Homo sapiens: one gene and its partner. The gene in region 1 interacts genetically with each later gene. Each region holds a gene or a part of one and is shown in the gene's direction. Other genes may lie near its edges. The genes, in order: PPAT and NUBP1.

Region 1 (3,823 bases):
CAATCATGAAAGTATAAATATGGAGTAAAAATTTCTTAAAAATTCACCACTTAGAGATAACCACTAACTCACTGTTTCCTGACATAATGACTTACCTAGATGCTAAACTTTATCTTTACCTTTAGCTCCCTACTGAAAATGTTCTGTAGTGCCCATTCAGACTCAATCTGTGCATGTCCATGGGGCTGCCCTTGTCTTGGTCAGTCCTGCTCAGAACTTTGTAATTATCATAGAGTACACTCAAGCGATATTTATTACATCTGCTACATTTCATTGTTCAATACAGTTGATTACTTTCTTCTATCAGTAATAATCAATGAGGATGGGTAGCCACCATTATGATCACTAACAAACCCAGCTTGAAAGTTATCACTGTAGTGTACTACTTTTATAGGAATATACCCAGTTCATCAAGAGTGTTGAGGGTAGAAAATGTCAGACCCACAAATCAAATTTTTGGGAACCCCTACCCACTTTCAGGTCTGCTTGCCTTCAGATTTAGTATTCAAAAGCTTTTCTGTACATCTCATAAAGCACATTTTTCCTGCTTGAAAATCTTCTAGATTTCCTATTGCCTCCAGCCATGGTCATCCGTTATTAGTATATACATACTATTAGCGCAGGAGTCCCCAACCCCTGTGCTAGGGACTAGTACCAGTCTGTGGCTTGTTAGGAACCAGGCCACACAGCAGGAGGTGAGTGGTAAGTGAAACTTCATCTGTATTTATAGGTGCTCCCCATCGCTCACTATTACCACCTGAGCTCTGTCTCCTGTCCAGATCAGCAGCAGCATTAGATTCTCCTAGGAGCATGAACCCTGTTGTGAGCTGTGCATGCAAGGGATCCAGGTTGTGCTCTCCTTATGAGAAGCTAATGTATAATGCCTGATGATCTGTTACTGTCTCCCATCACCCCCAGATGGGACTGTCTAGTTGCAGGAAAACAAGCTCAGGGCTCCCACTGATTCTAGATTATGGTGAGTTGTATAATTATTTCATTATATATTACAGTATAGTAATAATAGAAATAAAGTGCACAATAAATGTAATTCGCTTGAATCATCCCCAAATCATCCCCTGTCCCTGGTCCATGGAAAAATTGTCTTCCACCAAACTGGTCCCTGGTGCCAAAAAGGTTGGGGACTGCTGCATTAGTGGGATGCAGGATTTTTGTAACTGGACATCCACAGAATGCCTTATTTTCATTATGGTTGGCTACTGGGTTTGGGGTGGGGTGGAGCTTCCCCTCTGATGATTAAACTTCTCTTTTTTTCTATATAGCTTCTGCGTCATGGTATTGGTCTGTCTACAAGTTCTGATAGTGAAATGATTACCCAGTTACTGGCGTATACCCCTCCTCAGGAACAAGATGACACCCCAGACTGGGTAGCCAGGTAAGCAGAGAACTGGACTAAACTTAGAGCTCTAGTAAGGAGAGTTTTGCCTTGCATATGTTTATAACTGAAGTTATTCATTCAATTATTTAATTAATTCCAGGATTAAAAACTTGATGAAGGAAGCACCCACAGCATACTCCCTGCTTATAATGCACAGAGATGTTATTTATGCAGTACGAGATCCTTATGGAAATCGTCCCTTATGCATTGGTCGTCTTATTCCAGTGTCTGATATAAATGACAAAGGTAATAAACTTTAGAAGGAATATCATTTCATAGTGTTTTTCCATTATTGTCCTACTGCTATCAAGCCCTGAAATCTTTAGGTATAGAAAGTTGATGGGTGGGAGGGAGCTAGGTAAGAAAAATAAAAATAAATGTATTCTTCCTTTTTAAAGTACGTTTCTTTGAGTACTCCTGAGGATGAGTCCCCCCCCTTTTTTTTTTTTTTTTTTTTTTTTTTTTGGAGACCGAGTTTCACTCTTGTTGCCCAGGCTGCTGGAGTGCAGTGGTGCGATCTCAGCTCACTGCAACCTCCACCTCCCAGGTTCAAGTGATTCTCCTACCTCAGCCTCCCGAGTAGCTGGGATTACAGGCGCACACCACCATACCCAGCTAATTTTGTATTTTTAGTAGAGACAGGGTTTCTCCATGTTGGTCAGGCTGGTCTCAAACTCCTGACCTCAGGTGATCTGCCCACCTTAGCCTCCCAAAGTGCTGGGATTACAGGCGTGAGCCACCACGCCTGGCTGGATGAATCCCTTTTAATGTTTTTAATAGAGATTCCTATTTTTTCCTGTCTTAATTGGCTATTCATGTCCTTTGCCTAGCTTTTTCATTTCTGCAGTATGATTTTAGTGGTTTCTTTTCACTTTTATCAAGATATCTTTTTCTAGCCATGAAATCATAATGTTAGAAGGAATCTTAGAAGATCATTTATTTTATCTTTGGCTCAAGTCAAATGAGGATCCATGTGCTCTTAAAGTCATAGAAATGGCTATTCTATGAGTTTTATTTACTTATTTATTTAGTGTTAGCTGTTCCATTGAAATAGCCTCTTAAAATTTCTGGAATCCATTAATTGAATTGATTTGTGATTTACAGAGAAAAAAACATCAGAAACAGAAGGATGGGTGGTGTCTTCAGAATCTTGTAGCTTCTTATCTATTGGTGCAAGGTAAGTTTTACCTTGTTTGACATATTTTATTTTCCCATGTTGAAAAGAATTTTTTTTAGACAGTTTCTTATTTATGTGAAAGTTTGAAAGTTTTCTTTTTGATGTCTGCAAGAAAATATTTATAAATGGTTTTTCTTATGCATGTTATGCTCAGCAGTTGCACTGAGTTTAATGTTCTAGTAATAGCTTCTAATTCTGAAGCTGGCATTCTTTCAAGATACTATGAAACTTATTTTCTTTATTTTGTATATTTTTCTCTTTTTACAGTACAATATGAAAATAGAGACTTATTTTAGAAAGGAAGAACTTCCTCAATGAGAGATAGTTATGACAGAAAAATGTAAGCCAGGAGAAAATGTTTTCTTTATACTTTATTCTTTTAAAATTCAATACAACTTAGGGCCCTTAATTTTTTAATTCTATACTAGAACTTAGTGTTTACAGAGAGATTATAAAGAAATCATTGCAGGAGACATACCACTTTAAAAAGTCACTTCTAGATTTTATATTGAATGAATCAATTGTTTCTCTAAGGGAAGGTACTCTGTGTGCTTTATAATTAATATTTTCATCAGCCTTAAGGACTAGTTTATTAAAAGTCTTCTTTCTTTAACATTGTTTCCCAAGATATTACCGTGAAGTCTTGCCTGGAGAAATTGTGGAAATATCCAGACACAATGTCCAAACTCTTGATATTATATCAAGGTCTGAAGGAAACCCAGTGGCTTTTTGTATCTTTGAATATGTTTATTTTGCAAGACCAGACAGTATGTTCGAAGGTAAGTAGATTTCTTTTCTTTGAACATTCATATAAATGTTTTAGCTATCTCCTTGAAACATGGCAATTCTTGCCTCAAAGGCTTACCTGGCTCTTTGAAGGCATATAGTTATATGTTGTGGATATAGGACTGAGCCCACAAGTCATAAGATCACTATTTTTCACTTCCTTTTGACTCTTGGATTTTGTTTTTTGTTAGGAGTAAGGATTATGATTTTCTAGATCTATATGAAGGTCGATTTTTTTTTTAAAACCACACAGTTGAGTTCCCCAGTTTGTGTATTTTCACATTCATATTTTTGTATATATTGCATTTCTTTTTATACTCAATCTGTAGAATTCTAGCACTAGTTTTTTAGAATAACACTGTTATATCATGCTAAGTAAAAATACTCTCTCTCCTTTTCCAAACACACCAGACCAAATGGTTTATACAGTAAGATACCGTTGTGGCCAGCAGCTAGCGATTGAA
Region 2 (3,823 bases), on another chromosome or scaffold:
AAGTTCTCTTCTGGAGCTGGGAATACAGCACTGAAAGCTTCAGACAGTTCCTACCTTTGTGGAGACTATGTTCTAGTTGGGGGAGACAAACGTGTAAACCAATAAATGAGACCCCTTCAAGTGTGATAATAGCCTTATTTTCTTCCTAGCACTTATTTCTACCATTGTCTGAGAGGTATTTCAGAGGATCGTTTTAAACAGCCCCAGGACTAGTACTAGGACTAGGACTTAGCTCTTTCTAGTTGACTGGAAGCGTGACATTCGAGGTTTGGTGTGGGACCTCATCCCCTGAACTTTGGTTTTCTTTGCAGCTATAGAGGAAATCAAAGAGAAAATGAAGACTGTAAAACACAAAATCTTGGTATTGTCTGGGAAAGGCGGTGTTGGGAAAAGCACATTCAGCGCCCACCTTGCCCATGGCCTAGCAGAGGATGAAAACACACAGGTGAGACCTCAGGAACCACTGGGAGATGCTCATTTTGTCTGAGGGTCGTGATGGCTACTAAATAACTGATTCCTAGGCCAGGCGCAGTGGTTCATGCCTGTAATCCCAGCACTTTGGGAGGCCAAGGCGGGCAGATCACTTGAGGCCAGGAGTTTGAGATCAGCCTGGCCAACATGGCAAAACCTTGTCTCTACTAAAAATACAAAATATTAGCTGGGCGTGGTAGCGCAGGCTTGTAATCCCAGCTTTTCGCGAGGATGAGCCATGAGAATCGCTTGAGCCCAGGAGGCAGAGGTTGCAGTGAGTCAAGATTGTACCAGTGTACTCCAGCCTGGGTGGCAGAATGAGACTGTCCAAGAAGAAAAAAAAATGATTCCTTATACTAAGTTGAATTGGCCTCTTTGGAATCTCAATCCGGCAGAGAGCAAAGAAATGCCCAGTAGTCAAATGAAGCATTTCACTGGATTCCCTAGCCAAGAAAATGGCTAGCAGATGTACATCTGTCCTTGCATGTGGATAGTTTATTACATTACGTTCACGCTTCTTTTTCCTCTTTATTAACCCCTTTTAGCTTTTCTCTAAGCCAGGGACCTGCAAACTATAGCCAGTGGGCCAAATCCAGCCCATCTCCTGCCTTATGGCCTTTGAACTAAGAATGTTCACATTTTTGAAATGTTTTTTGTTTGTTTGAGACAGGATCTCACTCTGTCACCCAGGCTGAAGTGCATTGCTATGATCAGGACTCATTGCAACCTCTACTTCCTGGGCTCATCAAGCTATCCTCCCACCTCAGCCTCTCAAGTACCTGGGACTACAGGTGCTTGCCACCATGCCCGGCTAATTTTTGGGTTTTTTGTAGAGATGAGGTTTTGCCATGTTGCCCAGGCTAGTCTTGAACTTCTGAACTCAAGGCGTCCCCCTGCCTCGGCCTCCCAAAGTGCTGAGATTATAGGCATGAGCCACCGTGCCTGGCCTAAAATTGCAATTTTTAAATTAGTACCTAAGTACCTACATATGATCCTTGATTTTGCCCACAAAGCCTAATAATATATTTGCTGTTGGCCCTTGTGGAAAATTTTTGCTGGCCCTTACACGAGTTTATTCATTTCCACCCATGCATACAGACGAGCATGAAAACTCAGATTACCCACTGCTGCCCTCTGGATCTCAACTTTAATAAAAGGGGTTGGTGGGTCGCTAAGAGCACACACTCTGGAGTCAGACAGCCCAAACTCAGGTCCCAGCTCCATCTACACCACTGCTGTGACCTTGGGCAAGTTACCAGGCTTACTCTGCCTCCGTTTTCTCATCTATAAAATGGGACTCCAAGGACTGAGTGAGATGGCACAGTAAAGCACTTAGCACGGGGCCCGACGAATAGTCAATGCTCAGTAAAGGTCTGTGATGGCCACCATTTTTATTACTTTATTTCACTCTCTGGATATGAAGGGATGATGATTACATCTGCCTTAGAGATGAGTTTGTAGCCTACCCAAGGTATAGTACTGGGCAGATTCAAAATACACTTGTTGGGCAGGGCATGGTGGCTTACACTGTAATCACAGCACTTTGGGAGGCTGAGGCAGGCGGATCACTTGAGGTCAGGAGTTTGAGACCAGCCTGGCCAACATGGTGAAACCCTGTCTCCACTAAAAAATACAAAAATTAGCTGGGCATGGTGGTACGTGCCTGTAGTCTTAGCTACTCGGGAGGCCGAGGCATGAGAATCGTTTGAACCCAGGAGGCGGAGGTCGCGGTGGGCCAAGATTGCCCTACTGCACTCCAGCCTGGGTGACAGACAAGACTCCATTTAAAAAAAAAAAAGGATATAGATAGATACACAGACACATACACACACACACACACACACACACACACACACACACACACACACGTTGATTCGTCATTCTGTGAGTCAGCGATCTCTTGCCATTTGAGGGTCAAATCTGTACTGGCCTAGTGGGCTGGCCAAGAAATCTGCTTTCTCAGATTGTCTGTATCGTTTAGAAGAATCTTTGCTTTTCGAAGCTGTCAGGAATATTCCTAAACAGCTCACTGGAGATGGGCTTTCATCTCACCACTTGCAAGTAACCACTTGTGAGTAGACAACTGTTTACATCCTTCACTTTCATGTAATTACGTTCTGAAGTCTTTGCTGCATGCCTGTCTAGACTTTGCAGTATACAGAAGGAAAGCACACCATTCAGTGTGGAAATATGGCTAGATCAGCTGTATTTTTTTATGCAGTGGTGGTTTAAAAAAAAAAGAAGTCAGCATTTAGGAAAGTGTGTTTTCCCCAGGCAGACCTACTCATGACAGTGACATCACTATCTGCAAAGTGTCAACACATGGAAAATGCTGAATATGTCTTGATTAAAGTCAAGCAGCACAGATTTCTCCCTGCCCTAAATCCAGCAGGGTGGTGGGACATGCCCTGACCTTTTTCTGCCTGCCATCTGGTGGAAGCTTGGCTCTAACTCTGTGCAAGACCATTCCATGTTAGCGCTTGAGGCAGGCAGGCGCCTGTCATCTCATTGGCACAAAGGGCCTTGGATCAAGAGAGAGCAGAATTAGAAAACACCCCTGACGAGTCACAGGCTGCCCAGGGAGTGTGTAAGTTGTGGTGAAGGCAGAAGGAGCCTCTGTAGCATAAGCCTGAGCCATGAGACAGCCAAGAGTCATACACTGTCTTCCACTGCAAAAGTCACCGACTCCCAGCCTGGGCTTCAAAGTGAGACCCCTGTCTCTACAAAACATAAAACATAAAAAAAGTTAGCCAGGTGTGGTGGTAAGCACCTGTAGTCCCAGCTACTCAGGAGACTGAGGTAGGAGGATCACTTGAGCCTGGGAAGTCAAGGCTGCAGTGAGCCGTGATTATGCCACTGCACTCCAGCCTGGGCAACAGAGTGAGACTCTACCTCAAAAACAATGAATAAATAACAAGTCACCAACTTCCATAAATTAAACTTTTTTTGTTTGTTTTTTTGAGACGGAGTCTCATTCTTTTGCCCAGGCTGGAGTGCAGTGGTGTGATCTCAGCTCACTGCAACCTCCACCTCCCGGGCTCAAGCAGTTCTGCCTCAGCCTCTGGAGTACCTGGGATTACAGGCGTGTGCCACCACACCCAGCTAATTTTTGTATTTTTAGTAGAGACAGGGTTTCACTATGTTTGCCAGGCTAGTCTCGAACTCCTGACCTCAGGTGATCCGCCTGCCTCAACCTCCCAAAGTTCTGAAATTATAGGCGTAAGCCACCACACCCAGCCACCATAAATTAAACATTTATGATCTTTGTGATCTGAAAGGCAAACTGTCATAACAAGGTCAGCACTAGGTGTTTCAGGACTGAGTGTGCGAGGCCCTCCTCTGGGTCCTGGGA

Evidence for each region.
Region 2: changes in PPAT (region 1) and NUBP1 together harm fitness more than expected from each alone (negative genetic interaction), as found in Homo sapiens cells (one large-scale study listed by BioGRID).

What each region holds. Positions count from the first base shown.
Region 1 is NC_000004.12:56,400,859-56,404,681, reverse strand, and holds part of PPAT (amidophosphoribosyltransferase), read left to right. Parts: intron 1-1,280; coding exon 1,281-1,393; intron 1,394-1,496; coding exon 1,497-1,642; intron 1,643-2,500; coding exon 2,501-2,573; intron 2,574-3,200; coding exon 3,201-3,352; intron 3,353-3,770; coding exon 3,771-3,823. UniProt on the Homo sapiens protein: Catalyzes the formation of phosphoribosylamine from phosphoribosylpyrophosphate (PRPP) and glutamine.
Region 2 is NC_000016.10:10,746,832-10,750,654, forward strand, and holds part of NUBP1 (cytosolic Fe-S cluster assembly factor NUBP1), read left to right. Parts: intron 1-311; coding exon 312-445; intron 446-3,823. UniProt on the Homo sapiens protein: Component of the cytosolic iron-sulfur (Fe/S) protein assembly (CIA) machinery. Required for maturation of extramitochondrial Fe-S proteins.